Regions from separate parts of the Homo sapiens genome. Here regions 1, 2 and 4 are each linked to region 3. Evidence: fine-mapped expression QTL. A gene starts in region 3. Each other region holds a variant in brackets. All regions are shown on one strand. Distances are from middle to middle. Region 1 overlaps TLK2 (tousled like kinase 2). Region 2 overlaps MRC2 (mannose receptor C-type 2). Region 3 holds the start of MRC2 (mannose receptor C-type 2). Region 4 overlaps MRC2 (mannose receptor C-type 2).

Region 1 (8,102 bases), 68 kb after region 3:
AATTCTAAGTACAGACGCGGTAAAGAATTCAAAGGAAAAGAATAAAGTACTGTGAGAGATGATACCATGGGATAAAAGTCCTTGAGATGTCCTGTCTATTTCAACCAACAGGCAATTTATAGCTGCAGTTTTCCATGCCCAGAACACATTTTTCCTCTTCTTTATAGCTTTCTCCAATTAGTCCCCTGCCCTTGATTTATTTTAGTGAATTTATTTTCTTTTTTTTTATTTTAAGAGACAGGGTCTCACTCTGTTGCCCAGGCTGGAGTGCAGCAGTGCAATCACAGCTTACTACAGCCTCCAACTCCTGGCTCCAATGATCCTCCCACCTCAGCCTCCTGAGTAGCTAGGACTACAGGTGTGTGCCACCACACCCAGCTAATTTTAGTGAATTCTTAATATGTGCACTGCTCATCTGAATAGGTTTCCTTATATATGTGAATGTGTCTTATTCGCCCACCCTCATGTAGACTGTTAACCCTCTGATGGCAGGAACTGTGTCTTTTGTTTCTTAGATTCATGCAAGCTGTTCTATTATGAGAAATTCATTCTTTTTTTATTACTGAGTAGTATTCCACTGTATGACAATATAATAATTTGTATCTACATTCACTTGTTAACAGACACCTAGGATGTTTCCACTTTTTGGCTATGAATAAAATTCCCATGAATATTCTCATACAAGTACTTTTATGGACATTTACTTTCTTCTGTTTTTAAAAATAAAGATGGTCTTGCTGTGCTGCCCAGGCTAGTCTCAAACTCCTGGGTTCAAGTGATCCTCCTCCCTGAGCCTCCCAAAGTGCTGGGATTATAGGTGTGAGTCACCATGCCCGGCCAACATTTGCTTTTGTTTGTCTTGGGTAAATGCCAGGAGAGGAACTGCTGGATCACAGGATTTAGTACATATTTATCTCAAATAGAAAAACTGTCCAAAAACCTTCTGAAGTAGCTGTAATATTTTACATTTCTATTGGTGTAACAAATCAGGCTGCCCCTCATCTTCACCAACCCTTGGATCTGTCAGGTTTTTTTTATTTCTAGTCATTCTACTGGGTTTGTAGTACTATCTCACGCTGGTTTTACCTTGAGTTTTCCTGATGGATAATGACATTAAACATCTTTTCATGCTTGCCATTTGCGTATTTTTATACACTCTTTTTTTGTAAACTATCTGTTCAAGTCTCTTGCTCATTATTAATGAGTTGTCTTTTTATGATTAAGTTATAAGAGTTTTAAAATTTTTAAAGTATTCAAATTCTATGAAAGATAACATTGCACTCTATGATTGCATTTTCATTTGTGTGTTTTTTGTTTTGAGACAGTCTCATTCTACTACCTAGGCTGGAGTGAAATGGCATGATCTCAGGCTCACTGCAATCTCCGCCTCCCAGGTTCAAGTGATTCTCGTGCCTCAGCCTCCAGAGTAGCTAAGATTACAGGCGCACACCCCCACACTCAGCCAATTTTTGTATTTTTAGTAGAGATGGGGTTTCACCATGTTGGCCAGGCTGATCTCGAACTCTTGACCTCAAGTGATCCACCCTCATTGGCCTCCCAAAGTGCTGGGATTACAGGCGTGAGCCACCACACCCAGTCCATTTATGCTGCTTTATATTGCATCACGGTGTAGCAGATACTCAATAAATACTCCCTATTTAGAAAGTCAGTAAGTAGATACTACAATTTCAGTTCTTTTGGAAACAAATTTAAATTTTGTTATATACTACTCCTAGCAAAGAGAAAGTTGTTTTCCTGTGAGAACTCAGAGACAGCATTATGTTTACTTTTTGTAGTATGCTATTTAGAGTTTAGAACAACTGGCTGAATCTCTGCTGATTTCAGGAAGTATTCTAAAACTTCAAAGAAATTATCTGGATTAGCATATATTTTATTTTTTCTCACTCTCAGAAAAAATTTTAAAAAGTGGTTTCTTTTCTATAAAGTTGATTAATGAGTCAAAGAATGAAACAAAATTTCCCCCAGTATCTTCGGCCTCAATAAAATAATTCATTTCACTTTTACTGAAAGACAGTGTTTCCTGTCTTTTTAACAACATTCCAAACATTTCAGGAAAATAAATCTCCAGTATATCTCAAACCTCTAGTTTGTTCTTGTAATATTGTCATTAGGAAGTACTGTCTTCTTAAAACTTCTAAGAAATAGGCTGGGCGCAGTGGTGAGCGCCTGTAATCCCAGCACTTTGGGAGGCCGAGACGGGTGGATCACTTGAGGTCAGAAGTTCAAGCCCAGCCTGGCCAACATGGCGAAACCCCGCAATTCCTCAGGGATCTTGAACTAGAAATACCATTTGACCTAGCAATCCCATTACTGGGTATATACCCAAAGGATTATAAATCATGCTGCTATAAAGACACATGCACATGTATGTTTATTGTGGCACTATTCACAATAGCAAAGACTTGGAACCAATCCAAATGTCCAACAATGATAGACTGGATTAAGAAAATGTGGCACATATATACCATGGAATACTATGCAGCCATAAAAAATGATGAGTTCATGTCCTTTGTAGGGACATGGATGAAGCTGGAAACCATCATTCTCAGCAAACTATCGCAAGGACAAAAAAACCAAACACTGCATGTTCTCACTCATAGGTGGGAATTGAACAATGAGAACACATGGACACAGGAAGGGGAACATCACACACCGGGGCCTGTTGTGGGTTGTGGGGAGTGGGGAGGCACAGCATTAGGAGATACACCTAACGTTAAATGACGAGTTGATGGATGCAGCACATCAATATGGCACATGTATACATATGTAACTAACCTGCATGTTGTGCACATATACCCTAAAACTTAAAGTATAATTAAAAAAAAAATACAAAAATTGGCCGGGCATGGTGGCGCACGCCTATAAACCCAGCTACTCAGGAGGCTGAGGCAGGAGAATTGCTTGAATCTGGGAGGCGAAGGCTACAGTGTGCTGAGATCATGCCACTGCACTCCAGCCTGGATGAGACTCAGCCTCAAAAAAAAAAAAAAAAAATTCTAATAGTTACTAATACCTATTAACAGAGATAAGTGATAATTAACCAATGAATATAATAAAGAGGACATCAGCCAATTAAGTAATCATATGCAGGTATATGACAACTTTAATTTTTTAATGCACAAAGCATTAATTATCACATTATTATATACATAAGTTATTCTAAATGCCATCTCTGAAACAAAAATGCAACTATTGTTAATGATTCTAATAGTAATAGGATACTCACTTCAATTGATAGAATGAATATAAGAATATAGGAGAGCAATACCCCAAATAAACTCAACTAGGACAAGCTGTCTCTGTTCAATATCACACTCAAAGCAATGCACAGCAACAAAGCATATCCCAAATTAACACTCTGGATGGTTGGTCTGGTGTCCATGTAAGGAAAAAATTCTAATTGTCAAATCATGTTCCTAAAAAGCTCTACTTTTAAATATTTTCATCTCAAGTAAGGAATAAGAAGCCACACAATGACACACATTGAGTATCTTGGGATACAGAGTTTAGACCAACATTATTCACTAACCTTTTCTATAAGGAGTTTCTTGCTCATTGTCACACATCTATTTAATCGTTCCTTGTATTTCTCTAGCATCTTTTGCTGTTCATCAATCTGCCGTCTCAAATCACAGTTGGCCTTCAATGAGAAAAAAATTTTTAATTAGCTCCAAGGAAGAAGATTAATGGAAAAGCAGTTTCTAGGGAGAGAAAAAAAAATCATTTCTATATGTTGTTTTATCAAAAGCAAAATTAAAGTTCAAACAGGTAAGAAGTAACTATGTCTTAGAAAAAGTAAATAATTCATTCCTTTATTCTCTCATAACATATCATCTATTTGTAAATGATAAATTGAATTACTAATTTGGGCATGTTTTTCTACTGATCATATTTTGCTCCTGCCAATAACCAGTTACAGCTACTCTTGTAATCACAAACACCTAAGCTATCACAAAATAATAATTAAAAAAATGTTAAAGCTGGGAATCGTGGCTCATGCGTGCAATCCTAGCACTTTGGGAGGCCGAGGCAGGCAGATGACTTGAGGTCAGGAGTTCAAGACCAGCCTGGCCTGCGTGGTCAAACCCCATCTCTACTAAATATAAAAAAATTAGCCACACATGGTTGCGGGAGCCTGTAATTCCAGCTACTCGGGAGGCTGAGGCGGGAGAATCGCTTGAACTCAAAGG[C/T]GAAGACTGCAGTGAGCCAAGATCACGCCACTGCACTCCAGCCTAGGTGACAGAGTAAGACTTCATCTCAAAAAAAAAAATAAAAAATAAAAAAAAAATAAACTACAATGAATGTTTAAAATACAAAGAGTGATTAAGCACATACAAAAAAATTACTGAATTTTATGTTTGCTTTGTTCTTTTTCTAGTCGCATTTAAGAAAGATAAATTTGCATAAATGTTCCTCACCAGAGAAGCCAGGCACGCCCATGCCCACAAAAGACAGAACAAACAAACAACGTCCTGGTTCAAGAATGCCAGAATGTAAATATACAGCTAATTTAGCTGTGGTCAGAAGCCTACAGTGTGGACTAAAAACTTAAAGCCTCCTGCAATAACAGAGAAGGAAAGAACCACTAACCCAAGGACGAATTTGACTTGCAAGTCCTGAATTTATTCCTTTTGTGTTAAAAAAAAGATCTCAGCTCTTCTAGCAAATAATGTTACCTCATAAAAACTCACTTAAATTATGAAAAAGAAAAACCTGTTATGTGTTCCTAAAATACTAAAAGGCACAAACAGAAGATATCACACGATACTCAATTTTTGAGACCTTGTAGCTTCATTAAAAATTTTTATCATTTTTTCTTTTGTATAATATAGCATCATTTTTAAAGTAACCCATGAGAAACAGCTTCTGTCTCCAAATGTTTCTCCTCTCCCCATCAGCATAATTTCTTCCTGTTAGTTTTTGTACAGAACCATATTATCAAAGACAGAGTGTAACTACATTTGGGTAAGTGTGATTACCAAATTCATAGTAAAGAATCTACGAAGCAAAGATCATTTAATGTATATGGAAAACCCAGTCTACTCATAAGGTGAGTGTTCCCTTGAAATCTATAATCAAATGTATGAAATCCATCAACCTCTTGGCAGTTATTTAAAATTTTAATAATTCTAAGTTTTTGTGGCTTCTGACACTAATGTCTTCGAGGAGTTCATGTTTAAAGTAACAGCTGGCAGCTGGTGAGCGTGGCTCATGCCTATAATCCCAGCACTCTGGGAGGCCGAGGCAGGAGCATCAATTAAGCCCAGGAGTTCAAGACCAGCCTCGGCAACATGGCAAAACCTTAGTCTCTATAAAATTTTGAAAATTAGCCATGTGTGGTGGCATGCGCCTCTGATGCCAGCTGTTCGGGAGGCTGAGGATTGCTTGAGCCTGGGAGGTCGAGGCTGCAGTGAGCTGTGATTGCACCACAGCACTCCAGCCTGGGAGACAGAGCAAGACACTGTGTCCTTTTTTTTTAATTAAAAAAAAGAAAAAAAAAAAGCAGCTGGCTAGTAGCTCCCAATGCAGCCATACCCAACATCTTATTAAAATGGCAAAATTCAATGAATGACGTCTGAAAGAATATACAAGACATGTAGTCTTTCCCTCACTGTCGATCCTCTAGATCTTCTAGAAGCACAAGTTCTAATCAACCTAAAAACAAGGCAGCTGCCCTCTGTGTCTTCCTTTTTTATTTATCTACTCCTTTAGTACTGCTCTACATACAAATAAAGACTGCAACAGTCTGAAGACGACGGAGTAGAAGGGACAGTAGTGAGTGAAGGAAACATATTGCTTATTAGAAAACATAAGCAAACATTTTTTTGAAACTCCTAAAGCAGTACCAAGTTAGGATTCAAGTTTTTCTCATACTCTGTCATCTCAATCTTAAAGAGTCAGATGATGGAGAAAGGCACGCCCACAATTCTTCCTCAGTACAGCAGAGCTTCTCTGTACAAAACCCTGACAGATACTGGAATTTGGCAAGGAGCTTTTTACACCCACAAACCATTTCATTATAAATCTTCGATGGCAATTCAACCAGCACCCAGATGAATAAAAACAGGAATAAGAGCAACTCCATGCAAGTATACATATCCGAACAATGAAAAATACAACACAGTGCTGAGACTACATATGGGTCTCCTCATTCAAAGATGGAGGAAAGGAAATAAAAATAACAATAGTAAATAAAAACAACAACAAAAATAGGCCCAAGGAATACAGAAAATCAGCTTGAAAACAATGAAAATGATCACCCATAGAAATCAAAAGAACATTTTAGAATACTTCTTGTCATATTTCATAAAATGCAAAAAGACGTGATATCTAGGAAATAGGAACCAAAAACCCTAGAGAATATACAAGATGGGGTAAGAAAGTATATTAGATGAGGGAAAAAAGCAGGGAAATTTAAAATGTAAATAATAGGCCTGGCACGGTGGCTCACGTCTGTTATCCCAGCACTTTGGGAGGCCAAGGTAGGAGGTTTGCTTGAGCCCAAGAGTTCAAGACCAGCCTGGACAACATAATGAGACCCTGTTCCTACAAAAAATAAAAAAATTAGCCAAGCACAGTGGCACATGCCTGTAGTCCCAGCTATTCAGGAGGCTGAAGTGAGAGGACTGCTTGAGCCTGGGAGATGAAGGCTGCAGTGAGCCATGACGGTGCCACTGCACCCAGCCTGGGCAACAGCAAGACACTGTCTCAAAAAATAAAAATGTAAACAATAAAATCAAAATTCACACGAGCTGCAGTAAATGCCAGAAATATATGGAAGACAGTGTTTAATGAGATTCAGAAGAAAGGGGCAATCATATTAAAATAAGACATAACATGTGAGAAATAAAGGAGAGAAATCAGAGATTCAAGCTAAGAGTCAAGAAGAAACCAATATAAAGAGGGATAAAAGCATAGTTAGACATAATCACACATTTTCCAAATAAAAATATATAAACCCACATATAGAGACACCCTGGGGTAATATTTAACAAATTATGGTGTTTGCTGCTTTGGTCATGAACCTCTCTGAAATACGAAATGCTTGAAAAACTGAAGGAGAAACAGAGAGAGAGAATGCGTGTTATATTTGAGAGGCAGAACGAATAGAACAAGGGGTTATGACACAAAAATCCTGCACACAGTGTTGTCTTTCCACGGGAGGGCAAAAGAGAGAATTCTCAGGTCGGTAAGGCAGAGAAAATTTAACACTGACAAATCCTTGCTGAAAAATAATCACTTAAAAATGTACCACCATCAACAGATAAAACAAAAACTATAAATAAAAAAAATACTGCTGATAAGTTTTGAAATCAGTTGAATAAACAAGTCTAACAATGACTACAAATTTGGTCATAAAGCTGCCTCTGCCTATACTCTATACATAAGAACTTAGTATCATATATAGCAGTAAGAATGGTAATTTAACAATAATAATATAGGCCGAGCGCAGTGACTCACGCCTGTAATCCCAGCACTTTGGCAGACCAAGGCAGGCTGATCACTGCAGGTCAGGAGTTCGAGACCAGTGTGGCCAATGTGGCAAAAACCCATCTCTATTAAAAATACAAAAATTAGCCAGGCATTGTGGGGCATGCCTGTAATCCCAGCTACTTGGGAGGCAGAGGCAGGAGAATCACTTGAACCTGGGTGACAAAGTGAGACTCTGTCTCAAAAAATTAATAATTAATTAATAATATAAACAGCCAAATGTAGTGGCACATGCCTATAGTCCCAACTACTTGGGAGGCCAAGGTGGGAGGATCACATCAGGCGGGGACTGGGGAGCGCACAGCTTGCAAGACTGCGCCACTGCACTCCAGCCTGGGTGACAGAGTGAGATCCTGTCTCAAAATAAATATATAAAATTAATAATAATAGCCGGGCGCGGTGGCTCACGCCTGTAATCCCAGCACTTTGGGAGGCCGAGGTGGGTGGATCACAAGGTCAGGGGTTCGAGACCAGCCTGACCAACATGGTGAAACCCCGTCTCTACTATACAAAAATTAGCTGGGCGTGGTGGCGGGCGCCTGTAATCCCAGCTACTCAGGAGGCTGAGGTAGGAGAATTGCTTGACCCCA
Region 2 (8,102 bases), 53 kb before region 3:
AAAGTGCTGGGATTACAGGCATGAGCCACAGCGCCTGGCCGTGTAATGTTCTTTTGAATATTCTGAGGAGGGCAGGAGATCCATGACACTAAGAGGCTGGCTGCCTTCCTGTGTATGACAAGGATTTGTGGATTATATTATTCAGTGTTAACTAATCTAATCTTCACAACAGGGCTAAGTGTTCTTAAAATGTCCTGCAAAGAAGCCATGGCTTGAGATTAATGCCAATTACCCTGGCACATAACAAGGAAAATGACAACCTTCTCTTCCTGGTATGAACTCGTTGTCAATCGCCAGGTAAAAACAATGAAGGACTAATCAGGTCTAATAAATCAGCCTGTGCATGGAAAAATAACGACTGTGGGGAAGAAACTCACACTATGGAGGGGGTGTTGTAAAAACGTGTTGAGAAATGCATCCATAGTGATTAATGTCAGTGCCCCAAACTTTCCTACCTGCACACTCAAAACACTTGGAAAAAGAATTTTCTAGATAGGGTCTTGCTACATTGCCCAGGCTGGTCTCGAACTCCTGGCTTCAAGTGATCCTCCCAGTGCTCAGCGTCCCAGCCTACTAGCCAATTTTTAAACAAAAATGTTTGTTTAATTGGTAGAAGGACTAAAAATGGGGAGAATTATTTAGAAATGATGGATGAACTTTTTTCACTTCAATCTATTTGTCTTTGTGAGGCATATTTAATCTATAGCCACCATGAAATGCATGTTTTGAAATAACTTTGATTTTCAACACGTTAGACCTGTGAGTCATGAGTCATAAAGTGTCAGACTAAAATTTTTTAAAAACGTGAAGTACATGTAATCACATTGCTCTTATTAAAATTATTTAGACAATTTTTTTGTTGAACAACCTTCAACTTTCATGAACTACGCAAAATATGGACCCTTCAGGAATTTGCATAGCATCCTTGTGCAGGGCCATGCTAATCTTCTCTGTATTGTTTCACTTTTTGTACATGTGCTGCCAAAGTGAGCATATTAAACAATAATTATTATAATTGATCTTTTTTTTTTTTGGAGAAAGGGTCTCACTCCATTACCCAGGGTGGTATACAGTGGCATGACCATGGCTCATTGAAGCCTCTACCTCCTGGGTTCAGGAGATCCTCCCACTTCCCACCTCCTGGGTAGCTGGAACTACAAGTGTGCACCATCACACCTGGTTAATTTTCCTATTTTTTGTAGAGACATGGTCTCTCCATGTTGTCCAGACTGGTCTCGAACTCCTGGGCTCAAGTCATCCTCCTGCCTCAGCCTCCCAAAGTGCTGGGATTACAGGTGTGAGCCACCTCTCCCAGCCAATTAATCACTTTTGAGTGAGCACAAAAAAATGTTTTCATACCACTAGTAAAAAAAAAAAAAAAAAAAAAAGGTGTTTTTTTTGTTGTTTTTTTTTTCTTTGTTTATTTTTTTGAGACGGAGTTTCGCTTTTGTTGCCCAGGCTGGAGTGCAATGGCACGATCTTGACTCACCGCAACTTCCGCCTCCAGGATTCAAGCAATTCTCCTGCCTCATCCTCCCGAGTAGCTGGGATTACAGGCATGTGCCACCACACTCAGCTAATTTTGTATTTTTAGTAGAGATGGGGTTTCTCCATGTTGGTCAGGCTGGTCTCGAACTCCTAATCTCAGGTGATTCACCCGCCTCAGCCTCCCAAAGGGCTGGGATTACAGGCATGACCCACCACGCGCAGCCAAAAAAATGTTTTAAACTTAAAAGTATTTAAAAATCTTTAGCTAATGTTTTATACTCTTTTGTTCTTATACATATTTTACTATATATAATATTAGTCATATTAGTATGGAAGTAGGTTTTATTTACACACACATATACATATATAAGTTAAATGTACACACACATAGTTTGGTCATGTAAGCTCAATATTTTGTTTTACTAATAGGAGTTCATTATCAAAATCTTTGATAATCAGGCCGGCAATCAGGCCGGGCGCGGTGGCTCACATCTGTAATCCCAGCACTTTGGGAGGCCAAGGCAGGTGATCACCTGAGTTCAGGGGTTCGAGACTAGCCTGGCCAACATGGTGAAACCCCATCTCTACTAAAAATACAAAAATTAGCCAGGGGTGGTGGCAGGTGCCTGTAATCCCAGCTACTCGGGAGGCTGAGGCAAGAGAATTGGTTGAACCCAGGAAGCAGAGGTTGCAGTGAGCCGAGATCGCGCCACTGCACTCCAGCCTGGGTGACAAGAGTGAAACTCCTTCTCAAAAAAAAAAAAAAAAAATCTTTGGCAATCACTGATCTAGAACACTCACCAAATTATTTGGACAACCTTGCTTCCCGGAGGATTGGAAGGTGCTACTACAGTGAGTCATTTTCCAAGGAGTCTGGCCCTGGTACTGGAGCCAGGTGAAAGAGAAGTTGGTGGGTACAGGCAAGAGGCCATGAGTTTGGTGCTGCCAAAAGGCCAGGACTCCTGAGGCTCAGCCTTTCCCTGTTCACGTCCTCTCCCCTGACTCCCTTGGGTGCCCCATTGCCACCTCCTACCTTGTTGAGGAACTGGATCCAGTCAGAGGGGCAGCCCCCCAGGGCTGTAGTTGGCAGGTCTGGGGGCTGCGTTTCTTTGGTGACGTTGCTGCGCTTGCAGATGTAGGGCAAGGCTGTCAGGCACCTCTGGTCCCCCCAGTCCTCTGCGGAAAGGGGAGGGGAGGGCAGTCACCCCCAGGGCAGAGCAGGGCAGGGCATGGCTGGCAGCACACTCAGCCTCATGCCCTGAGAGGAGTCTGGGCAGAGGCTCAGGGCCTGTGTCCAGCTCCGAATTCAAGTCTTCTGGACCATGGAGACAGGTCCACCCCTCGCTGAGTCTAGCCTTTATTGGGTTGTGGGAACAAAGAGAATGAGAACAGACTGATGACTTCTGCCCAGGCTCGCCCAGCATTAACCCTTTGCACAGCTGACTGCGCACTCTGCCCCCACCTTGCCCTCACCTCGGCTGGCTGTCATGTACACGCACTTCTTGTCCTTGCCGACAGGCCGAGGTTTGCCTGGTGCCCAGGAGATGAAGTTTATAATGGAACCATCTGTCCATCTGCAATGGCATGGAGCAGAGGTAACTCCAGCACCGGCCCCCAGCTGGGCCTCCACCGGATGCAGCAATGAAGGCCGCAGGAATGGGGGCAGGGAAGGGCCCAGGTTCTGGGGTTTAGTGGCTGTAGGCTGAGGGGTGGAGCTACTGAGCTCAGGGCAGTCAAAGACCCAAGGACCTGGTGCCTCTAGATAAGGCCCCAGCTGTCCCTGGACACTTGCTGCTCCAGAAAAGAAGCCTGAGGACTCCAGGGCAGGAAGCCCAAGGGCAAAAAGACAAGCTCAAATTCTGAGTCCCAGGTGCTCCTGGTCCTTCCTGCCTCAAGCCCCCCAGTACATGGTAAGTAGGCACCAAATACAAAGAGGCCCCCGGATCATCATATGTTCTGCCCACTTCCCCGAGAGGGCCTTAGTCATGATGAATGACACCAGACGTAACAGGAGCTGCCATTATTTAGTAACTAATGTGCTGGATGCTGCGTAAGCACTTCGCATATGTTATTTCTAATCTTCACAAAAATCTTACCAGGCAGGCCTCATATTCCCATTTTCAGATGAGAAAACCAAGGCCCAGAAAGGTTAAGTATCTTGCTCAAGGCCACACAGCCAGCAAGGAAGGGGCAGGGCTGGATTCAAATGCAAGTCTGCCTCTGTGCTCCGTGTGTGGACAGCCAGCCCCCTTCCACATCTGCTGCCTGCCTGGGTTCCTACCTGAAGCGCCCATCGCTCTCAGAGGTGTGCAGGCCGATCCACCAGTGCTGCTCCTGGGCCCGGGAGAACTGGAGAAGCCAGGCGGGCAGGTGTGGGTAGGCAGCCCCCTGCCCTCATCCCGGGCCTGCCCTCCCCCAGCCTGCAGCCCCCTGCTCAATCCAATGCCCACCTTCTGCAAGTTGTGGCTCAGGAAGTCTAGCTCCGCCTGGCTGTGCACCGAGGTCAGCTCGGCCTGGAACCACGTGCAGATGCGCTGCGCCTGCGCCCACGTGGAGTGGTGCTCAAAGAACTTGTACTCGGCCTCCTGGAAGCGCAGCCATTCCCGTCGGCCTGCAGGAGCAGCGCGGGCGTGGGAGCGGCGGCCAGGCAGAGGCTGCACGCCAGGCCCCGGAGGCGGGCGCGGCAGGGCCGGGGCAGAGCCAGGCGGCAGCAGGCGAGCCTGCAGGCACACCGGACCCAGGCAGGCACCGTGCCAGGCCCCAGGCCCCAGGCTTGCCTCGCCTCCCA[C/G]ACGGAAGCAAACAGGGCTGTGGCTGCCTCCGTCCGAGCCAACCCCGTCCCCCTTCTCTCGACCGGAACTCCTCATCCCCTCCATTTCATTCAGGCCTCTCGGGACTTACCCCAGAGTTGACGCCCTCTCCCACGCGATGGGTAGCGGGATGGGCTGGGGGGTGCTCACCTTGAGGGCTGTCGTCGGGCTCCCGCACGTCCGTACCTAGGGGAACAAGGACAAAGACGTTGTGAGGAAAGGAGACCCTCCCTGGAATTCCTGGCCCCGCCACCCTTCGCTCCATCCCGCGTCCCCCAGCGCCACTCCGGCCAACCTCTGGGGATCTTGCAGATCCAGTCCAGCTGTGTGTCGCACTGCATGGCCACCCACTGCAGGGAGGCCAGGTCCAGCACCGCACAGCCTCGGATGTCGTCGTCGTCGTGCCGGCTCCGGTCGAAATTGTGGTAAGAGAACTGGAGGAGGCGGGTGGAGGGAAGAGGAACGTGAGGCGCAAGGTGCAGGCCGCCCCCATGCCCGGAACAGGTGAACAAGAGGCCTGGCCTGAGCTGCGAATTCTCACCGGGGGCCGGGTGACCCCTCTCGGACCTGCTTTCCTGAAGCCGGCTCCGACTGGGGGCCCGGCCCTCAAGAAAACCCGCCCACCTCCAGGCCCCGCCCCAAACAGGCCCCGCCCACCAAGCTCCCGGCCTCGCAGTCCCAAGTACCCCAGGCCCCCTCACCCCTACGCCGTCGCTCCAGCGCCAACTCTGACCCCCTCTGGGATCCCGACGGTTCAGGCCGATCCAGAACCAGTGCTGCTCGTGGATCTCGGGTTCTGATTCACTTCAGCACAACCCAGGAGTGGGGACGGAAGAGATGGGAAGTGAGAGGGGCAGGAACCCAAACGTGCCCCCTGTCCCTTGCAGCTGTGACCGGGGCAGCCCCCAGGGCCTGGGGCCTCTCCATCTGGGCTTCACATTGACCCATCGATACAGCGTTGAGGTCACTTCGGTAAAGTTCTCCCCACAAGACAGAGCTGGGGAGAGCTGGACCAAGCCATCCACTCAAGGGGCAGTGGCCCCTCCCCTTTGTTTGGGTTCCTTTTGGGTGGGGGTGCCCTGTCCAGCAAGATTCTGCAGGCTTTTACTTTACGGAGTTTAGGAAGTTCAGATGAGGAGGTGGCAGGGATCTACGGCTCTGGAGTTAAATAAACCTGGATTCAAGTATCCGTTCACCCATGAACTTGGGCAAATAACCTCTCTATCAACCCACAAGGGTCAGGGGTTAACGTCTGCTCCATAGGGTTGTCGGGAGGCTTGAGTGAGGACTATATGTTTAGCACAGTGCCTGGTACGTGGTGAGAAGTGATGACCATGAGCTATTGTAATTATGAGACAAATAATGTAATTTCAATGTTTGCTGAGAGGAGAGATCCCTTCAATTAAGCTATCAGGAAGCCCAGATCCATCTCGATTTTCCCAGTGCTAGGGGATTCCACGTGCTAATGCTCAGAGCCCAGGACAGAGGTGGTGTCTCAGAGGGAGGCCCATGGGCAAATCCTCATAGCTGCGGCCTTTCTCCTCCTATCTCTCAGGAAAAACTGTGGATTGAGGAGTGTGGGTCATTGTAGGATGGTGTAAGGTGAGGGGAAACACTTGCCAGGACCAGCATGTGGGAGATTTTGCAATGGGGTGGGGGGTACATATGTAAGTTTGTGGGTCTGTTGGAGCATTGCTGGGGGGATGATGGTGAGCAAAACACAGTCTCCTATGAGTGCATGGATCACACCAGCCTGTTCTCCCAAGATGCCAGGGCACCATGGCTACTTGAGTGAGGACAAGATGGTCCTGGCACCAGCAGCAGATGCAGGCCTCCCTGGGGTCACCCACATTCTGCCATCCCCCTGCTCGCCCAACAAAACCAAGGGTCTGTCGGCCATGCCTGCTCCTACACGTGTGCGGGTGCCCTCCTAACACGCCTCAGCCCGGCTCAGTACCCGAAGATCTTGTTGAGCATGTTGGCCACAAAGTGCTCCTCCTCGTAGCTGGCCAGGCTCAGCAGCTGGGCCCCCAGCTCCTGGCAGGCCCCCTGGGCCTGGACCCAGCTCTTCTTGTCCTGCAGCCGCTCTGAGCTGAACACCTGCAGGGGCAGAGTCCAGCTGTCTAAGCTGTCCCCACTGGCCCACCCCTCAGGGGGCACCTACTGCCTTTCCCACCATGGCAGAGGAGGGGCCTGGAGCCTTACTGGACAGGGGGCTAAGGCTAGCTAAGGACAATCCTGTTCATCTGCAGAGGTCTGGGGAGGGGAGCTGGCACAGTCACCTTCTGGAGAGGGCCCCTGAGCCCCATCCCCTGACCAGCAGGGAGATCTGGGCTCTAATCCCAGCAGAGCCACAGCTTAACGTGGGTAAGTCCCTTCTTCTCCCTAGACTTCAGTTTCTGTGCATAATAAAAGACCTCGGACTCTGCCAGTGGCTCCCAAACCTAGCGTGATTAAAAATACAGATTACCAGGCCCAATCCAGACCTAATGAATCTAAATCTCCATTGTGACAGCCTAGATTTTTATCTTTATTTATTTATTTATTTATTTTTGAGACGGAGTCTCGCTCTGTCACCCAGGCTGGCGTGCAGTGGCACGATCTCGGCTCACTGCAAGCTCCGCCTCCTGGGTTCATGCCATTCTCCTGCCTCAGCCTCCCGAGTAGCTGGGACAACAGGCGCCTGCCACCACACCTGGCTAATTTTTTGTATTTTAGTAGAGATGGGGTTTCACCATGTTAGCCAGGATGGTCTCGATCTCCTGACCTCGTGATCCACCCGCCTTGACCTCCCAAAGTGCTGGGATTACAGGTGTGAGCCACTGCGCCCGGCCAAGATTTTATTTTTATCAGGTTCCCCAAGCAATTCTGAAGAACAGCTAGGCTGGCCCCAACATTTGGGAACCTCTGAAATCAATGATCTGTGGTTCCCTCAATTCCTCAAATGATTACTGAGCACCAGGCCTCCAGATTCCATGGACAAGTCTCACCAGAAATCACCCGTCTGCAGCCTGGTGTGTCTCTGGATTGTGGCTGGTCCCACTGGGACCTCCATCCAAACTGTCTCTTTGCTCCTGTCCTCCCCCTGCCCCCTACCCGGCCAACAGGCTGCCCTACCTTATAGCAATACCGGAGTTTGGTGTCCGAGGCCCAGCCCTGGGGACAGGAGCCAGTGAGGCTGGGCGTGGGATCTGGCCCCGGCAGCTCCGGCGTCACTGGAGTGCCCAGGCTCTGCCGGCAGATGTAGCGGGCCCGGAACGAGGTACAGTTCTTCACCTCCCACAGCCCCATGGCGCTGCCAGTGGCCAGCGCCACGCAGCCCCCACGGCTGTACCCTGAAGGAGAGGGAAGGGAGACCCAGGCTCTGAGAAGGATTCATAGTCTGGTCCTCCCTCACATCCCGGCAGGGCACTAGCACGGCCCTCACACTGGGAACCAGCTTGGCCACCTCTTCAGAGACATGCTCTCTGGGGTTGGAGCCAGGAGGGAGGAAGGGAATGGAGGCAGAGCCCTGGCTCTGGGTTCACCCACTGTGAGGGCTCAGGCAAGCTGCTTAACCTCACCGAGCCTGCTTCATCATCTACCTCATCAGGTTATTGAAGGGGTTAGAAAGATAATGAATGTGAAATGGTAATAATAGTAATAACAAGCACTTGTATTGCGCTCAGTATTCTGAACACATTTTTTAAATGAGTCCAGATAGAGAAGAGATTATTTGTTTCTTTTTTGTGAGCCCAGATAGAGAAGTAATCTAGACACTTTACACACATTAACTCTTTACACATATTAGCACTTTACACATATTTA
Region 3 (8,102 bases):
ATGAATGAACAACCATGTGAATCCTTGACCTCAGGGAAGCTGGAGTGCCATGCTGGGGCACCTTGAGTCACTCACTTATCAATGCCTTCTTGGAGGGGGTCCCTCAGAGATCCTGAGGACACTGCAGGCGGCTCGGTCCAGGCCTCCTGGACCCACAAGGAAGTGGCTGACCCAAGCGCCCAGACCGCTGACATGTGACAGAGGGCTGCTCGCTCCACCCTCCTCCTCAGGAGTCCTCCCGGTGGGACACATTGAGAGGTGTCCTAGAGGGCTTGGAGTTATGGGGGCGGGGAGAACACATAAGGCAGAATTTCCCAGGCTTTCCTAACACACACACACTGACAGTGCTTCATGCGATGGAAACGCTGTATGGTACTGGAGCGTTCAGGCTCCGTAACCACTCCTGGGTTCGAATCTCACTGGTAACACCTTCTAGTGGTGTGGTGGCACAGCCTTGAGTGACTCCCTTAACATCTTTAACATTTTCACGCCAGGTGTGTGCAAATCTCTGACACCTGCTCAGAGATGGGAGGTGCCGAAGAGCTACTGCCAGCACAGGACCCAGCACGGCGCCCACCACATGCACAGCGCAGCCGTGGGTGCCATCGCTCCATCCCTCTGGGGGTATGGACAGTGCAACAGGACTCCTCCTCGATGCTTAAACTGATGAGGAACTCAAATGAATATCTGCCTGAGAACTGCATGGCACTTCCGAAATCATCTCATTGAGCCAAGTCACGGTGCCCTACGTGCATCAGAAAGCCAGGATTTCTCTGGTGCGAAAAATGGGGGCCAAAACCCGGGGTTCTTCCTCCCCTCCATGTACCCTCACCTTGCCCAGGTGAACCCAGAAGAGAGCCAGGATCCCAGCACTAGCCACAGCTCGGCTGGGCACCTCCTGGGCCCTGATGACTCACAGAGAGCCAGAGGGTTGGAGCAAGGAAAACTGAGTTTTGCGTGGGGGAACAGTAAGAAGTTTCCGAACCCCACGACTCAGCAGAAGCTGGGCCAGAAGTGTAGGGAGCTGGTCTGGCTGACTCTGGTCAGAGCCCCAAGTACCCGATGCCACCCTCCCTGTCCTTTAGGCAGCACCGACCTTCCCCACAGGAAGATTTCCTGAGGTCTCCTCACCCCATGGCCTTGAGACTTGATCCCTGGAGCTCCCAGAAGCCCCTTTCCCAGCAACTATCCCCTCATTCCTCTGCTCGGAAACCTCCAAGGGTCCCCTGGGGTTCCCCACAGCCAGCTTGCAGGTCCCATCCCCATTCTGGCCTCCCAGGCACCTCTTTCACTCAACCTTCTCCCCGGCCCAGCCAGCAAGCTTCCACATCATCCCCAGAAGAGCCCAGCCTGGTGGCCCCTTCCTGCCTCTCTCCAGACAGCCTTGGCCACCCTTTGGCCCATACGGTCTCTCCTGCCTCCAATCTCCAGACGGGAAGCATCCACACTCCAGCCTTTCACTTACTAGGGGTGTGACCAATGTAAATGATCAGACCCCTCTTAGCCTTCATTTCCTGAACTGCAAAAATGGTCCAACAATAACCATCTCCTTGGGTTGTTATCAAAATGAAATGGGAACTTGCACATGAAGGGTTGAGCGTGGGTCTGGGCAGGCAGGCATCCCACCAATGGCATTCTGCCCCCTACGCAGTTCACTGTTCCACGTTTCATTCTCCCACACGATTTTCTTTTTCCAGAGGATGCATCTTACACTCTTCTCTACCTTCCCTCCTCCCCAAGAACTTGGCTCAAGGCTGAGCAAACTGCATGCTCCAGAAATGCGGTAATATGGCAACTAACAAAGAGGACTCCTTCCAGTGACAGTCTCCGCGGGCCACTCCACCAAGGTGGAGAAAAGATGGATTCCACCATCACGCACCAAGAAGGCACTGCCGCCTCGCTGCCCCTGCCCCGTGCTCTGGGCACACAGGGCTCCCCCATGGTGGTCAGGAAACTGCCCACACGCAGCCCCTGCCCTGCCTGGCATAAGCCTCGCCCCCAGCAGCACTGGCCTGCCACACCCTACCTCCCACATGCATTTCCTGGGCTATTTGGTCTCTGGTGCTGGTGAATTCCTCCCAACAACAACGTAATTCACCAGGTACTAGGGGCTGCCAGCTCTTCGGGCAAGGAATTCGGCCCAGAGGCTCTGAACAGGCTTCCCAGGGTAGGGCCCAGTGGAATTTGGCAGGGCAGGGGCAAGCGCACTCTGTGCAGAGGGCACGGTTCCGAGGGAAGGAACCTGCAGCAGCTCCATCCTCCTCCTGCTCAGCTGCTGCTGGAAGACCTCACACTGCCTGCCACCCAGATCCAAGCCTCCTCAGGGTGTGGTCAATGCAGTGCCAACGGGAAGGGGACCCTCTGAGGCTATTCATCCCTGGACACAGCCCCAGGGAGGGCCAGGCACAGAGACCAGGAGGAGGAGGGACACTCCAGGCGTCCTTGTCCTCCCTGACCGGGCCTCTCACCAGGCACTTCCAGCCCCCTCTATGAAAAGCTCCAGGGGGAAAGGCCGAGTCAGCACTCTGGCCACAACTCTCTCCCAGGGCCTGGCTTTAAAGTGTGCTCTGGAGCTCTGGGAATGGCCATCCTCCCCACCCCTTCCCACCGCCTGCCTCCTGAGGCCCTGCGCAGAGGAGCAGAGGAAGGCAGGAGTGCGAGGAGGTAGGGGAACTGCCTGTGAGGCCGCCCTGCAGTGGGTTAGGGGGTTACCCGGCCTGGTTTGTGTCTGTCCCACATTCAATGCCAGGTGGGCCCAGAATTGCCCCGGGGGTCTCCGGTTGGTGTGAATGTGGGTCACCGTGGCCCCCACCTTTCCCATCTGGCAGATATGTGTCTTGTGCCTACGTCACGCCAGGCCAACCCAGCAAGCACGGGCCAGGCTGGAGGCCCCAGACTCTCCAGGGGGCTGTCTGGTCCTTGCACAAAACTGCAGACACTGCACGGACTGTCCCCATCCCCCAATTAAACAGCCAGCAGGACCAAGCTGGGCCGGGCGATTCCCCCGGTCACTCCAGACACCCCCACCCCCACTCCCCCAGGAAGTGGATCTTTCCTTTCAACTCTTAGATTCTTGGCGAGGGATCTGTCTGTCCCCACACTTCACTGTTACCCCTGAATAAGGAGCAGGAAGAGAATGGCACAGTTTTGGGGTTTTCTGATTTTTGTTTTGTTTCCTGTTCGTTGGGTTTTAAAATCTTTAGCAGCTCTTTTGCCGCTCAAGGTCTGTCCCCTCTGGAGGGCCACTAGTGTGCCCAGAGCTGCCCACGCTACGCAACATCACAGCACGGCGGCGCCCAGCCTGTTGCTGCGTCCCAGTGGCAGGAGCCTCCTCACAGGGCTGCCGAGCTCACGCGGGGCGGATGCCGCGCGCCACAAGCCTCCTTGAAGACTAAGTGTGGAAAAGAAAATATCAACGCCCACGAGATGCAGGGGGCGGGGGGAAGGTGGGGGAAACGAACCCTCGCGGATAGTTGGAAAGCCGTCCTAACGCATCAGTCCTGGGGCAGAGCGAGGAGACTGGGCCCGGGAACTCCCGGACAGAGAGCCCTGGCTCCCCGGGCGCGCCCTGCAGGTCCCCTGCCGAGGACGGGCCGGCGCCGGGTGGTCCGGGAGCGCGGTGCGCGGGGGTCCTCAAGAGCCCACCCGCTTCCTCCTAGGCTGCTGGAGTCCCCCGGGCTCCCCTCCCCCGCCGCCCGCCACATCTGGTTCCACTCAGGTCCTCCCCCACCTCTAGGCGCGCTCCTCCTCCCCTCTCCTCCCCCGCTTTCAGAAAAGCGGAGACGAGTTTTAAAAACCCAGTCACACACACACGCACACACGCTTCTGGAGAAAAGAGGGGGGAAAAGGAGGGAAAAGTCGAGAGCGGCCCGCGCCTCGGCGCTCCCCCCGCCCGGGCCCTGAAGTTGGCCAAGTTGGCAGCGCCTTACCCGGGAGGGCGGCGTCCCCAGGGGCGCCGGGACGGCCGAGGTGCAGGCACCCGAGGAGCAGGACGCAGCGCAGCAGGTGACGAGGCCAGGGCGCGGGGGCCGGCCGGCCGGGCCCCATCCCCGAGCGCGGCGCTCAGTGGACGCGGGGACCGAGGGCGCACAGGCGCAACGCGCTGTGGCAGCCCCGAGGCTGGGCTGTGATGACCGCCCGCAAGGGGCTCGCGTCCTCCTCCGGGTCGGGACGAAGTGATGCCTCCCGGGGAGGAGGAGGGAGGAGGCAGCCCGGGCGGAGGGAGGGCGGAGGGAGGAGCGCAGAACCGGGGAGGAGGGTTCGAGGGGTAGAGGGGAAGGGAAGTGGGCAGCGTGGGAGGGGAAGGGGAGGAGGCGCGGGTCTGGGGCTAGAGCGTCGGGAGGGAGAGAAAGGGGTGGCGGAGAGGAGGACACGCCGGGTCCAGGAGGACCCCAGCGTGCGCCCTTTCTCTTGCTGCTCTGTTTCCCAGTCTCTCCCCGCCTCGCCTTCCCTCTCTTCTGTCCCGGCCAGGATCCCCAGACGCTGCGTCACAACTCCCCCGCTGGCGCGGGCGGGGAAGCAACTGCAAAACTTTCCGCAAACTTCACGGCGTGGTGGGACCTGGGCTACGAGGTCCGGCCAGCCCGGGGCGGGGGCGTGCAGCTGACCCAGGTGGCCAGACCCGGGCCGCCAGCATCCGCCCCGCCATCCCGCCTCTTTCTGCGGGCGTCTCCAGCAGCCTAGCATCCCCTACCTCCATGCCGAGGAGGACCCCTCCCCCGGTCTGGTGGGGAAGGGGCGGAGCCCAGGGCCTGGCCACCAGGGCGAAGATTGGGGGAGGGGGAGGCAGAGCCCTTGTTACGTGTGCGGAGCGCAACAATTCTTGCACGTCTTGTTTTAGCATTTTCGTGACCCCTGTGTCAGTGTTCCCGGTGCAGGAGTGTAGCACTTTTGCTTGTTGGGGCTGCATCCAGAAACCTGGGGAAAATCTGTCCACTGGACGTCTCAGAAGACCGGCATCATCACTCCCACCAACTGGACTGCTGGCCGGTAGCAAAAGACCAGCTGGAAATTTCATAAAAGGTTAGACAATCCACAGTTACTCAGTGTTACGCAACAGGTCTCTGCAGCACAGAGCACGAACTGGGGAGTCAGGATGCTGGAGTCCAGCCCTGCCTCTCTGCGGATTCCCTGCCTGACCTTGGGAAAGCCTCTTGGGGTCTCGGGGCATAGGGCAGGACTGAGACGTTGAGACCCCAAGTGCAAAGAAGACACATTTCTCCTACCACGAGTAATCAAAAACACTATGAAACTGTAATATGGGCCGGGTGCGGTGGCTCACGCCTGTAATCACACTTTCGGAGGCCGAGGAGATTGAGCCCAGGAGTTGAAGACCAGCCTGGGCAACATAGGCAGATCCCATCTCATTTTGTTAATATAAAATTTTTAAATAATAATAAAACTGTAATATAAATTGTATTGTTTCCTATCTTGTCCACCTTGGTATGTTTTTTGGAAATAAATTCAATTTTTTTCCTTTTTATTCCTCCTATCTTGGGTAAATGTTTCCCCAACTCTGCAGTGGGGGTGTTGGGTCAGAAATGCTCACTCGTCTCTTCCCATCTCTGTCAGGCTGAGGCTCTTGGTAAACAGTCCAGTGGTAATAGAGCCTCGAAGCAAGCCCCCACTGAAATCCCCTAGAGGCCCCTGGAAAGGGTCCCATTAGCCACCCTTTGGTTAGCAGCCAGACCAACAAAGCCCCTGCACTCCACGGCTAGCTTCAGCAGGTCCGACAGGGCCAGGTCCCTTCTGGTGGCTGTGGCTCCACTGCCCCTTGGGACATGTCTTCTTGGTGTGGCATGTTCTGGGATCTCAGTCCTCTGCACACAACAGGCCATGCTGGAGCTGCCTCAGAGGTCCCCCTCTTGGCCTTCCCTCTTGCACAATCCTGTAATCTCTGAAGGATTTAAGGATTTGCCGGCTAAGCTGCTCTCTCGCTCTCAGAACACAGGATACTCCTTCCCCTGAAACAGGGCTGGATTCCCCCTTCTCCAGCAGCTTGAGTAGGTTTCGGCGTTTCCTGCTGGCCTTCCCTCCTACTATCAGTGGCAGGACAGAAGCCCACCCCTTGACATCACCAGCGCAGAGCATGAGGCCAGAGAGCCCACCACTTGCCGGCACCAGGTCCCGCCATGCCGGGCACACAGGAGGTGTGCTCTCGTCTCTTCACCCACCGGCTCAACAAGCACCGACTGCTAGCCCTGTGCTAGCTGCTAGAGAAAGAGAGATGGGCAAACACAGTTGCAGCCCTAGAGGAGCCTCATTTAGTGGGGGAAAATAAACGTTTTGCCATATTCCAGGCAAAGAAGACGCAAGGGCTGAGGAGCACAAAAGTGTGCTGCTCTCGCAGGGACAGAGGTTGGTTCAAGCTTCTAAGGCCCAGTTCTAGTCTCTGTCAAGGGTGAGACTTCCTCCTCCAGCGCGAGACTTCCTCCTCCAGCGCGACATGGTTCCACACTGTGTTCCACTGACTTCTGCTGATGTCTGCAGCTGCCAACTGCTTTTGATCTTGACTTTGGGGCAGAAAGCGGGGAAACATCTGGGAGATTCTCCCTGTGGAGAATCCGGGCCGGTTCCCTACTGCATAAAGATCCTGTGCAGGCTCAGTTGTCAACAGAACATGGTCACAGTCTGTAGGAGTGTTGGGTGTTGTGAGCAGCATGGGACTTTCGAGGAACCCCTCATCAACACCCAGACCTTCATCTGCTTCCAAAGAAGGGCCAGCGTCCTCTGTGCCCACAGCCTCCTCACCATTCCTGTGCCCACAGTTGAACAGCCGTTTATTGAGGGTCAGTATGTGTCAGGCATCAGGCTAGATGCTGGAGACTTAGTGAGGTCTCTGACTTGTCCAGGGGATTTTTGCCAAGATGGTATTCGCTATCGTGGAACTGAAGCTGAGAATGGTTCTCCCCTAGACACTGACCAACTGTCAGCCAGCAACAGGTACTGAGGGTGATATGGTTTGGGATCTGTGTCCCCGCCCAAATCTCATGTCAAATTGTAATCCCCAGTGTTGGAGGTGGGCCCTGGTGGGAGGTGATTGGATCACGGGGGTGGATTTCTCATGAATGGTTTAGCACCATCCTCTTGATGCTGTTCTCATGACAGTGAGTTCTCACGAGAACTGGTCATTTAAAAGTGTGCAGCACCTCTCCACTCTCTGTCTCGCTCCTGCTCCAGCCATGTGAACTGCTGCATCCCTTCCGCCATGATTTTAAGTTTCCTGAGGCCTCCCTAGAAGCTGAGCAGATGCCAGCATCATGCTTCCTGTACAACCTGTGGAACCATGAGCAAATTAAACCTCTTTTCTTTATAATTACCCAGCCTCAGATATTTCTTTTCTTTTTTTTTTTTTTTGAGATCAAGTCTCACTCCATTGCCCAGGCTGGAGTGCAGTGGTGCAATCTTGGCTCACTGCAACCTCCACCTCCTAGGTCCAAGCGATTCTCCTGCCTCAGCCTCCTGAGTAGCTGGGATTACAGGCACGTGCCACCATGCCCAGCTAATTAGTAGAGAGGGGTTTCACCATGTTAGCCAGGCTGGTCTCAAACTCCTGACCTCAGGTGATCCACCTGCTTCAGCCTCCTAAAGTGCTGGGATTACAGGTGTGAGCCACCACACCCGGCCTGGTCTCAGGTATTTCTTTATAGCAATGAGAGAATGGTCTAATCCTGTATTAGCATCACCCCCTGTGGGTCTGCTAATTTCATCAAAACCAGTTTACGCCAGGTGTGGCGGTTCAGGTCTTGTAATCCCAGCTCTTTGGGAAGCCAAGGTGGGAGGATCACTTGAGGCCAGGAGTTAACAATCAGCCTGGGCAACATAGCAAGACCACACTTCTACAAAAATTTTTAAAATTAGCTGGGCGTGGTCATGGTGGTATGCACCTGTAGTCCTAGCTACTTGGGAGGCTAAGACAGGGGAAGTACTTGAGCCCCGGGATTTGAGACTGGAGTGAATCTATAATCACCACTGGACTCCAGCCTGAGCAACAGAGCGAGATCCTGTCTTTAATCAATCAATCAATCAAACAGTTTAGTGGAAGGAGTACAGACTTTGGATCCAGAGAAACCTGAGTTCAAATCCTGACTTCGCCATTTCCC
Region 4 (8,102 bases), 42 kb before region 3:
GCCTCACAGGGTGGATGAGAGCACAAGCAGTTCATGTGCAAACGCCTTGAAACTTAACAAGCATTGTCTAAATGGGAAAGGCATCCTGGCCCGGCGCGGTGGCTCATGCCTGTAATCCCAGCATTTTGGGAGGCCGAGGTGGGCGGATCACTTGAGGTCAAGAGTTCAAGACCAGCCTGGCCAACATGGTGAAACCCCATCTCTACTGAAAATACAAAAAGTTAGCCGGTTGTGGTGGTGCATGCCTGTAATCCCAGCTATTTGGGAGGCTCAGGCAGAAGAATCGCTTGAACCTGGGAGGCAGAGGTTCCAGTGAGCCAAGATCGTGCCATTGCACTCCAGCCTGGGCGACAGGGTGAAACTCCATCTCAAAAAAAAAAAAAAAAAAAGGAAAGGCGTCCTTTTACATTATTGATAACTCGTTTTATAAATATCAAAAACAAACTGGCTAAGATTGTTAGAGTAACTGATGGCAGGATAGACAGCTTGGATTCCCAAGGCGTCTAGCTAGTGCCTGCAGGGCCAGAGTGTGCAGAGGCCAGTGTGCCCAGACCAGAATCTCAGCTGATGAAGCTGAGGAGGAATTTAGTCCTCGGCCCCTGCTTCTGTCTTCGCCCTCCCCAGTATCCACAGGCCCCCAGCCAGCAGTATGTCTGTCTCTAAGCTCCATTCTGAGGGCAGGCGTGTTTGTGTATCCTAGCACCCAGAAAAATGACTGGCACATGGTAGATACTCAATACATAATTGTTTTAAAATTCTTAAATAGCATCCCCTAAGGCAAATGACTGCCACTACAGTCCACAGCACTGTTTGCAGTATGTGACAGCAGAACATCCTGTCTGTCCCTAGGAAGGGTGGTCTGTGTCCCTACGGCTTTCTCCTTTTTATTTTATTTTTTTTTTTTTGAGACAGGGTCTTGCTCTGTCACCCAGGCTGGAGTGCAGTGGTGCAATCTCAGCTCACTGCAGCCTCTGCCTTCCAGGTTCAAGCGATTCTCTTGCCTCAGCCTCTGGAGTAGCTGGGATTACAGGCATCTGCCACCACGCCTGGCTAATTTTTGTATTTTTAGTAGAGATGGGGTTTCACCATGTTGGCCAGGCTGGTCTCGAACTCCTCACCTCAAGTGATCCGCCTGCCTCAGCCTCCCAATGTGCTGGGATTATAGGCATGAGCCACCACACTCAGCTGGCTTTGTCCCTTTTTTAAGGGTCTTTCATCTCTGCTTGAAGCCCTCCATCAATTCCTTCACTTACACCACATCTAAGCCCAAACCATGGCAAATTGTCATAAAACCCAACAATCTCTTGAGATGACAGGACCCTGGACTGGGTAGAGCACTGGGGGCGAGGGCTGGCAGAGTGCAGCCCTGCTTGCAAAGTATCTGCACATAATGTGGGTTCTGATGCCACCTTCTGGCAGGGAAGGGCAGCTGGGAGGAGACCAAGAATGCGCCAGGCACTGTGCCTAAGGTTTCACGAGAATTAACTCCTCTGATCTCCCCAGTGACCCTCTAGTAACTTGCCCAAGGTGACTTGGCTACTTGGAGGTGGAGGTGGAGGTAGGATTCAAGCCCCGGCAGTCTCTCACATGGAAGGGAAGGCATTGGTGGGGAGGAGGGGGACTGCTGAGAGGTAAGAGGTTCCAGGCAGGTTCTGATAGTAACTAGGATGTCCTTCAGCTGGGGTGGCACCTGGAGGTTGGGGGTGTATTTTGTGGCCCTGTGATAGGGAGAGGGAGATCTCACCGGGCCCCAGATGGTGACACAGTCCTCCAGACTGTCCCGGAAGTTGTTGGGCTCAAAGGGGTGCCAGTGGGTGAAGCTCACAAGGCTCCCGTCAGACCACTCAAAATTCATCTGCAGTTTCAAATCGTTGAGGCCGATCCACAGCTCCTCCACCTCTGGGGGTGCAGCAGGAGAGGAGGGGAGAGAAAACATTGAGAGGTCAGCCTCAGCCACCAGTAGGGAGGAAGGAACATTCTCTGAGGCTCCTGGACAGGATGGGTGGGGCAGTGGGAGGCCCTGCCCTCCACCCAGACACGTGGGCGGGCAGCTCCTCACCTTGCTTGATCTGCTTGGTGATGAATTCCAGCTCCGCCATGCTGTGGATGCTGACCAGGTCGCCACCGCCCCGTAGACATGCCTTCTTGGACTCCTGCCAGCTGCGCTTCTCGGCCTGCAGGCGGTAGCAGTGGCCCTGGAAGGGCTGCCAGCTCGGCTCGCACTCCACCTTCACATTGGCCCACCTGTCTGCAGAGACCCATGAGGCTGCTGCTCAGGGACTGAGCCGCCCAGTCTGGGAACCAACCCACTGGGTTGACGTCAACACAGGCGAGGCCTCCCAGTCACCTCCTCTCCAAACTCTCCCAGATCAATCCCGGTCCCCACCACAGGTCTTGGAAATGCTAAAAAAACACAAAACTTTACAGGGCTGCTGGAGCCCCGGGACAGAGACCCAAGTCGTGGTGGCAGATTCCACCCAGGACAGAACACTTCCTCTGGCTGTGGCTCTCAGAATACGATGGGTGGGCCAGGCATGGTGGCTCAGGCCTGTAATCCCAGCACTTTGGAAGGCTAAGGCTGGAGGATTGCTTGAGCCCAGTAGTTCAAGAACAGACTGGGCAACAAAGGGGAGACCCCATCTCTATAAAAAATAAAAAATTAGCCAGGCATGGTGATGTGCGCCTGTGGTCCCGCTACTCAGGAGGCTGAGGTGGGAGGATCACTTGACCCGGGGAGGTCAAGGCTGCAGTGAGCCATGATTGCACCACTAAACTCCAGCCTGGGCGACACAGCAAGACCTTATCTCAATCAATGCATCAATCAATCAGTCAATAAACGATGGGTAGAAAGGACAAACCAGCCCCATGAACCTCAGTTTCTCCCTCTGTAAATGGGGTTTCCTGCTATGAGATTCAAGCTTGGCTTATGGCCCCCTGCCTAGTAAATGGAATCACTGTTATTCTCTCAAATAACATTTATTGAGCACCCACTCTGTGCAGGTCTGGGAAGCCCAGGAGGGAGAAAACTGGGAAACGGGACCTTGAGCCACTAATGGGGCCCAGGCAAGCCCACCAGGAATCTGAGGTCTTGGTGGACGGGCAACCGAGAACATTAGGAGGTGCTCAAAGTCACTACAGATCGGCCCCATCCCCCAGCTGGGACTCCTTCCCCGCTCCTAACTCCTAACCCTGAACCCCAGGGCTGAGAAATCCACCCGTCCCAGGCCCTCCCTTGCCCCGATTTCCATGCCTTTCAGGTTCACCTTCTAGGGGTTGGG[A/G]TCCGAGGGCAGCTGAGGCAAACAAGCCCTTACTTGGTCTTGGCAAGAGAAAACAGGACTTCACCAAACCACCCACAGTGTCATGCTCGGGCAGGATTCTGCCTAGTCGGGCAGGAAACTGCGCGCCCACTAGAACACGGCCTCAGACTGGGATTCCAGTGGTCCAGCCACACCTGCTCCTGGAGACCCGGCAAAGCTGGGCGGACTGAGAGCCCGGTGGGCTCGCTCTCTGGCTCAGGACCTGTCAATCATCTCTTGTTAGCCAATGAGCTAAGACCTGAGGCTGCCGCCCCAGACAAGCGGATTTTAGTGGCTGCTGAGACCCGAGGGGCCTCAAGGACCGGAAGGGAGCTTGGGAAATGTGGATGCTTTGGGGACACGACGGGGCGCCTGCCTTCGAAATGACAGGACTTAAGTGATGAGACCGGGAAAGCAGAACCTGCCTAGAATATGCCTCGTGCAGAGAGATATGGGCTGGGCAGAGGGGCGGAAATCCGAGGCCTTACATCTGTCTGCAGGTCCGGGAAGACCCAGAGGACAGAGGACTTGGTAAGGGGCCACAGATAGGCTAGGCATGCCCACACCCGGGCCTCCCAGCGGGCCCCTTCCTTCAGAAAGGTGCTTGTGGGAGGACTGGACTAGGGCCCAAGGCTCCCTCCAGCTAGAGGTGGAGGTGCCCTAGATCGGGTTGCTGACGTTTCAAGCTTCTGCTCCTGGCCCCTTACGGAATGGGAGATAAAGCAGTGGTCAGCAGTCCTGAATCAGGCCAGAGCCGTGGCTCACGCCTGTAATTCCAGCACTTTGGGAGGCCGAGGCGGGTGAATCACTTGAAGACAGGAGTTCGAGACCAGCCTGGGCAACATGGTGAAACCCCATCTCTAAAAATACAAAAAAATTAGCCGGGCGTGGTGGCACACTCATGCCTATAATCCCAGCTACTCGGGAGGCTGGAGCATGAGAATCGCTTGAACCTGGAGATGAGAATCGCTTGAACCTGGGAGGCGGAGGTTGCAGTGAGTGGAGATTGTGCCACTGCACTCCAGCCTGGGCGACAGAGCGAGACTCTGTTTCAAAAAATAAATAAATAAAAATAAAAATAAAAAGGCGGGGTGCGGTGGCTCACGCCTGTAATCCCAGCACTTTGGGAGGCCGAGGTGGGCAGATCACCTGAGGTCAGGAGTTCAAGACCAGCCTGGCCAACATGGTGAAACCCCGTCTCTACTAAAAATACAAAAGTTAGCCGGGAAGTAGTGATGCCCGCCTGTAATCCCAGCTACTCAGGAGGCTGAGGCACGAGAATCTCTTGAGCCTAGGAGGCAGAGGTTGTGGTGAGCCAAGATCGCACCACTACACTCCAGCCTGGGTGACAGAGTGAGACCCTGTCTCAAACAAACAAACAAAAAAACCAGTCCTGAGTCGATCATTGGCAAGACTTCCATGGTCAGGAGCAGAAGTTTTGCTCTGTAAACTCTTTACTGTCTGTAGTTAGTGTTGTGTGTGTGTGTGTGTGTGTGTGTGTGTGTGTGTGTGTGTTGCCATATTTTCTTTGTAAAAGTCTCCTCACCACCCCACAGCTTCGCAGGAAACTGCACAGCCCCTCCAACCTACACCACAGTAAACATCCACAGCCAACTACAGAAAAACTCCTTCGTGCCAGGCCAGATCTCCAGCCTTCCTCACAACAACCTTGCAAGGGGGGTGGCTTCATTCTCCATTTGCAATGAGGACTCTGCACCCCAGAGACTAAGCTGCTTGCCCAGGGCCACACAGCAGTAAGGGGCAGAATCCCTAAAGCAGACCCTGTCCATTGCCCCAACTCCTCCACGAGGCCCCTAAAGCTGTCTCTATGATCACAAACGAGAACCAGACACTCCCTGGCTTAAACATCTTCAAAGGCTCCCCACAGCCTACCTGGCCCCACCCAAACTTGGCCCAGCAGCCAAGACCCTGCAGAGACTGGCTGCAACCTGCCTCTTCTTCACCATGCCCTTTAAGCCAGGGCTTCCCAAACTGTGTCTGCACATGAATCATCTGAGGATCTTGTTAAATGCAGGTTCTGATTCAATTACTCTGGGGCGGGCCTGACTGTGCATTTCTAACAAGCCCTCCGGGGATGCTGTGCTGCTGGTTGGATGACCATACTTGAAGTGGTTAGAATCTATACTCCACCCAAACTGCAACAGGCACCATCCATTTTTTTCTTTTTCTTTCTTTTTTCTTTTTTTTTTTAAATTTATTTATTTATTTATTTATTTATTTTTTGAGGCAGGGTCTCGTCTCGCTCTGTTGCCCAGGTTGGAGTGCAGTGGTGCAAGCGAGGCTCACTGCAGCCTCAACCTTGCAGGCTCAAGCAATCCTCCCACCTCGACCTCCCTAGTAGACAGGCGTGCATCACCACACTCAGCTAATTTTTTAAAAATATTTTGCAGAGACAGGGTCTCGCTATGTTGCCCAGGCTGGTCTTGAACTACTGAGCTCAAGCAATCCTCCTGCCTTGGCCTCCCAAAGTGCTGGGATTATAGGTGTGAGCCACGGTGCCCGGCCATCACTCACCACCCCTTAAAGCTGCAGTGTAGTTCTAGGCCTCCACACCTTTGCATATGCTCTTCCCTCTGCCAGGAATGCCCTTCCCCCACACCTCTTTATATCTTTTAAACTTAGACTCAATTTGAAAGGCCCAAATCAAATGTTATTTCCATAAACCCCTCCTTAACTCTCAGAAGCTGAATCAGTTTCTTCTCTATGCTCCTCTAACACTGATCCATATTTCTATAATCACTCATGACCTGGGATAGTCTAACTGCATTGAGATGTCTGTCACCTCCAGCAGACTGTGGTCTCTACGAGGTAACAGTGGGTATTGCCAGCATTTAACACAGATCTCAGCACATGTTCCCCAAATGAATTAATGACATATTCCAATTTGCTCAGACTTTAACTGAACAATGAAATAAGAGTCAGAGGATCCAGAGTCCCCTTGTGCTGTGGTGGTAACCGGAGGAGAGGCTGGGCCTGCCACGGCTCTGTGGCTGTGTCCCTGGCCCTGGGAGCCCCTCCCCACCCTGCGGCACAGTCCCTGGCTCACCTGGAGGGGTGGGCTCGGCCGTGGCGTTGGGCTTCTTCTTGCACACATAGGGCAGCGCGATGCTGCAGTCACGGTTCTGCCAGCCGCCCGAGGACTCAGTGCGGATCACTCCACAGTTCTCCTCACTGGGGTTGTCCGGCTGGTCTGTGGGGAGGGCAGGGCGCCAGCACCCCCGGAGAGAGAAGCTCACACCGTGGCTCCCGGGGCCCTGCTCAGAACCTCCTACCTCCCTCTGCTCCCTCGGAAGCCTGAGCCAGTTCGGGAAGCCTGGTGCTCAGCTCCAGCTCCGCCCCAGACCACGGGGTCCTCCGCGCTTTCTAACCTGGGTGCACGTCGCCTTGAACCTTCTACCCAGTAACCAGTACCAGCCCCGCCCCGGCCTCCCCGTCCAGGCTGCTGGGTGCGCTGGTGCCCGCTGCCCACAGGGGTGGCTGAAGAGGTGAGTGGAGGCTGGCACCCAGTCCATATGCACCAAGACCTTCGGCCTGGGGCAGCGCCGCCCTACATGGGCTAGGGGGGCGCAGTCTGGGGAGGGGGGTGGAGGTCGGTGCTTCCCCTACCCACACTGCCCCTCTGCAGGAGGACATGAGGAGAGGAGTCCATGGGAGGCCAAGAGCCCGCGGGGCCCCTATGCTGCCCTGCGCCCCCAACCTTGTGCCTCACCACTCTCCCAGTTGAGGTACTTGAGGGGCGAGTTGTCCGACCACTGCCAGCCTCCGCTCGTGTCCAAGTCATTCAAGCCGATCCACAGGGTGGAGCTGTACCCAGTGAGGAGGCCTGACAGCAAGGAGGGACACTGAACAGGGGATCCCCAGCCCCAGCCTCCCCCGCTCCCCATCGCCCTCTCCCCAACCCACAAGCGGAAAGGGCCCGGGCCCTCCAGAGGCACGAGCAGGCATCAGGCCCCGGCTCACCGTTGATGTAGGTCTGCTCGTGGATCTCCGTGATGCTCAGCAGATCCGCACCCTGCTGCTCGCAGCTGGCCCAGGCCTCCCTCCACGACAGCGTGGACTGGAAGTTAAACTGGTAGCAGCTGTCAGTCAGCTGGTCCTTGTCCCAGAAGGTCTCGCAGTCGTTACCTGCCACCACGACAGCCCTCTCCTTCAGGCCCCCTCCAGGGTCCCTCGGGAGTGCAGACCCTCCCCCACCAAAAGGCTACACTAGGTAGGGGAGGGGGCAGTATCTCACCCTGGGCCCCGGGGCCCCTCAGCACCAGCCTCCCTCCAGGAACACTGCCCCCGCCCCCACGGCTCCAACAGCTCTCACTCTTGATGGGGCAGAAGCCCCAGCGCTCGTCTTTGCCGTAGTCCTGGGTGGTGGCACACCACAGGTGACCATCCTCGCGGCCCGTGCTGGTGCAGCCGTGGAACCACTGGTTGTCATATTTGAAGGGGATGGTGCACGGCTTTCCGTGGGAGTTTCCCTGGATGGTGTAGACCTCTGCAGGGGGTGGACAGGGGCCAGGCCCTTGGCATCTGGACACCAGAGGCTGCCAAGCCCCTCGACCCTCAGGAGAAATCCCCTAAAACCCAGAGTGCTGGGTGTTCACAGGGATCAGCAGGTGGGAGAGGCAATGGCACCCCATAGTGGCTTTAAGGCTTCTTCTGCTGTTGAGTCAGCCCAGGAACCAGAGAGAGGTCTTGCTGCACACCTCATAGGGCTGGGAAGGGGCTCCCTAGTACCCCTAATCCCATCCAAACTCCAGCTGGGCAAGAGGGCCTCCAAGTCACCCACAGAGG

What was found. PIP is the estimated chance that this variant, and not a neighbour inherited with it, causes the effect.
Region 1: its variant is fine-mapped to the expression of MRC2 in aorta (GTEx, PIP 0.95).
Region 2: its variant is fine-mapped to the expression of MRC2 in esophagus mucosa (GTEx, PIP above 0.99).
Region 4: its variant is fine-mapped to the expression of MRC2 in esophagus mucosa (GTEx, PIP above 0.99).

Annotation. Positions count from the first base shown.
Region 1 is chr17:62,555,575-62,563,676 of GRCh38, reverse strand. TLK2 (tousled like kinase 2) reads right to left here. Exons shown (of 22, transcript NM_006852.6): 10 at 3,551-3,661. Among named protein-coding and RNA genes, the nearest start is that of MRC2, 68 kb to the left of the region's middle. RefSeq lists a silencer at 3,864-4,222. The variant C/T (reference allele first, on the strand shown) is at 4,212.
Region 2 is chr17:62,676,797-62,684,898 of GRCh38, reverse strand. MRC2 (mannose receptor C-type 2) reads right to left here. Exons shown (of 30, transcript NM_006039.5): 12 at 7,413-7,630; 13 at 6,253-6,395; 14 at 4,997-5,099; 15 at 4,591-4,729; 16 at 4,446-4,481; 17 at 3,939-4,099; 18 at 3,770-3,837; 19 at 2,962-3,062; 20 at 2,522-2,664. It also overlaps the pseudogene RNU6-446P. Among named protein-coding and RNA genes, the nearest start is that of MARCHF10-AS1, 25 kb to the left of the region's middle. RefSeq lists an enhancer at 4,389-5,117. The variant C/G (reference allele first, on the strand shown) is at 4,277.
Region 3 is chr17:62,623,748-62,631,849 of GRCh38, reverse strand. It overlaps MRC2 (mannose receptor C-type 2), which reads right to left and starts at 4,180. Exons shown (of 30, transcript NM_006039.5): 1 at 3,930-4,180. The coding sequence starts at 4,047. It overlaps LOC107985020 (a long non-coding RNA gene), which reads left to right and starts at 3,800. Exons shown (of 2, transcript XR_001752961.3): 1 at 3,800-4,005; 2 at 4,841-5,413. RefSeq lists enhancers at 443-1,299, 5,454-5,954, 5,955-6,455 and silencers at 3,551-3,620, 3,821-4,260.
Region 4 is chr17:62,665,795-62,673,896 of GRCh38, reverse strand. It overlaps MRC2 (mannose receptor C-type 2), which reads right to left. Exons shown (of 30, transcript NM_006039.5): 3 at 7,630-7,803; 4 at 7,278-7,442; 5 at 7,027-7,140; 6 at 6,364-6,507; 7 at 2,060-2,248; 8 at 1,745-1,899. Among named protein-coding and RNA genes, the nearest start is that of MARCHF10-AS1, 36 kb to the left of the region's middle. RefSeq lists enhancers at 1,282-1,351, 1,599-2,099, 2,100-2,600, 2,920-3,678, 3,679-4,438 and 1 more and a silencer at 1,295-1,589. The variant A/G (reference allele first, on the strand shown) is at 3,279.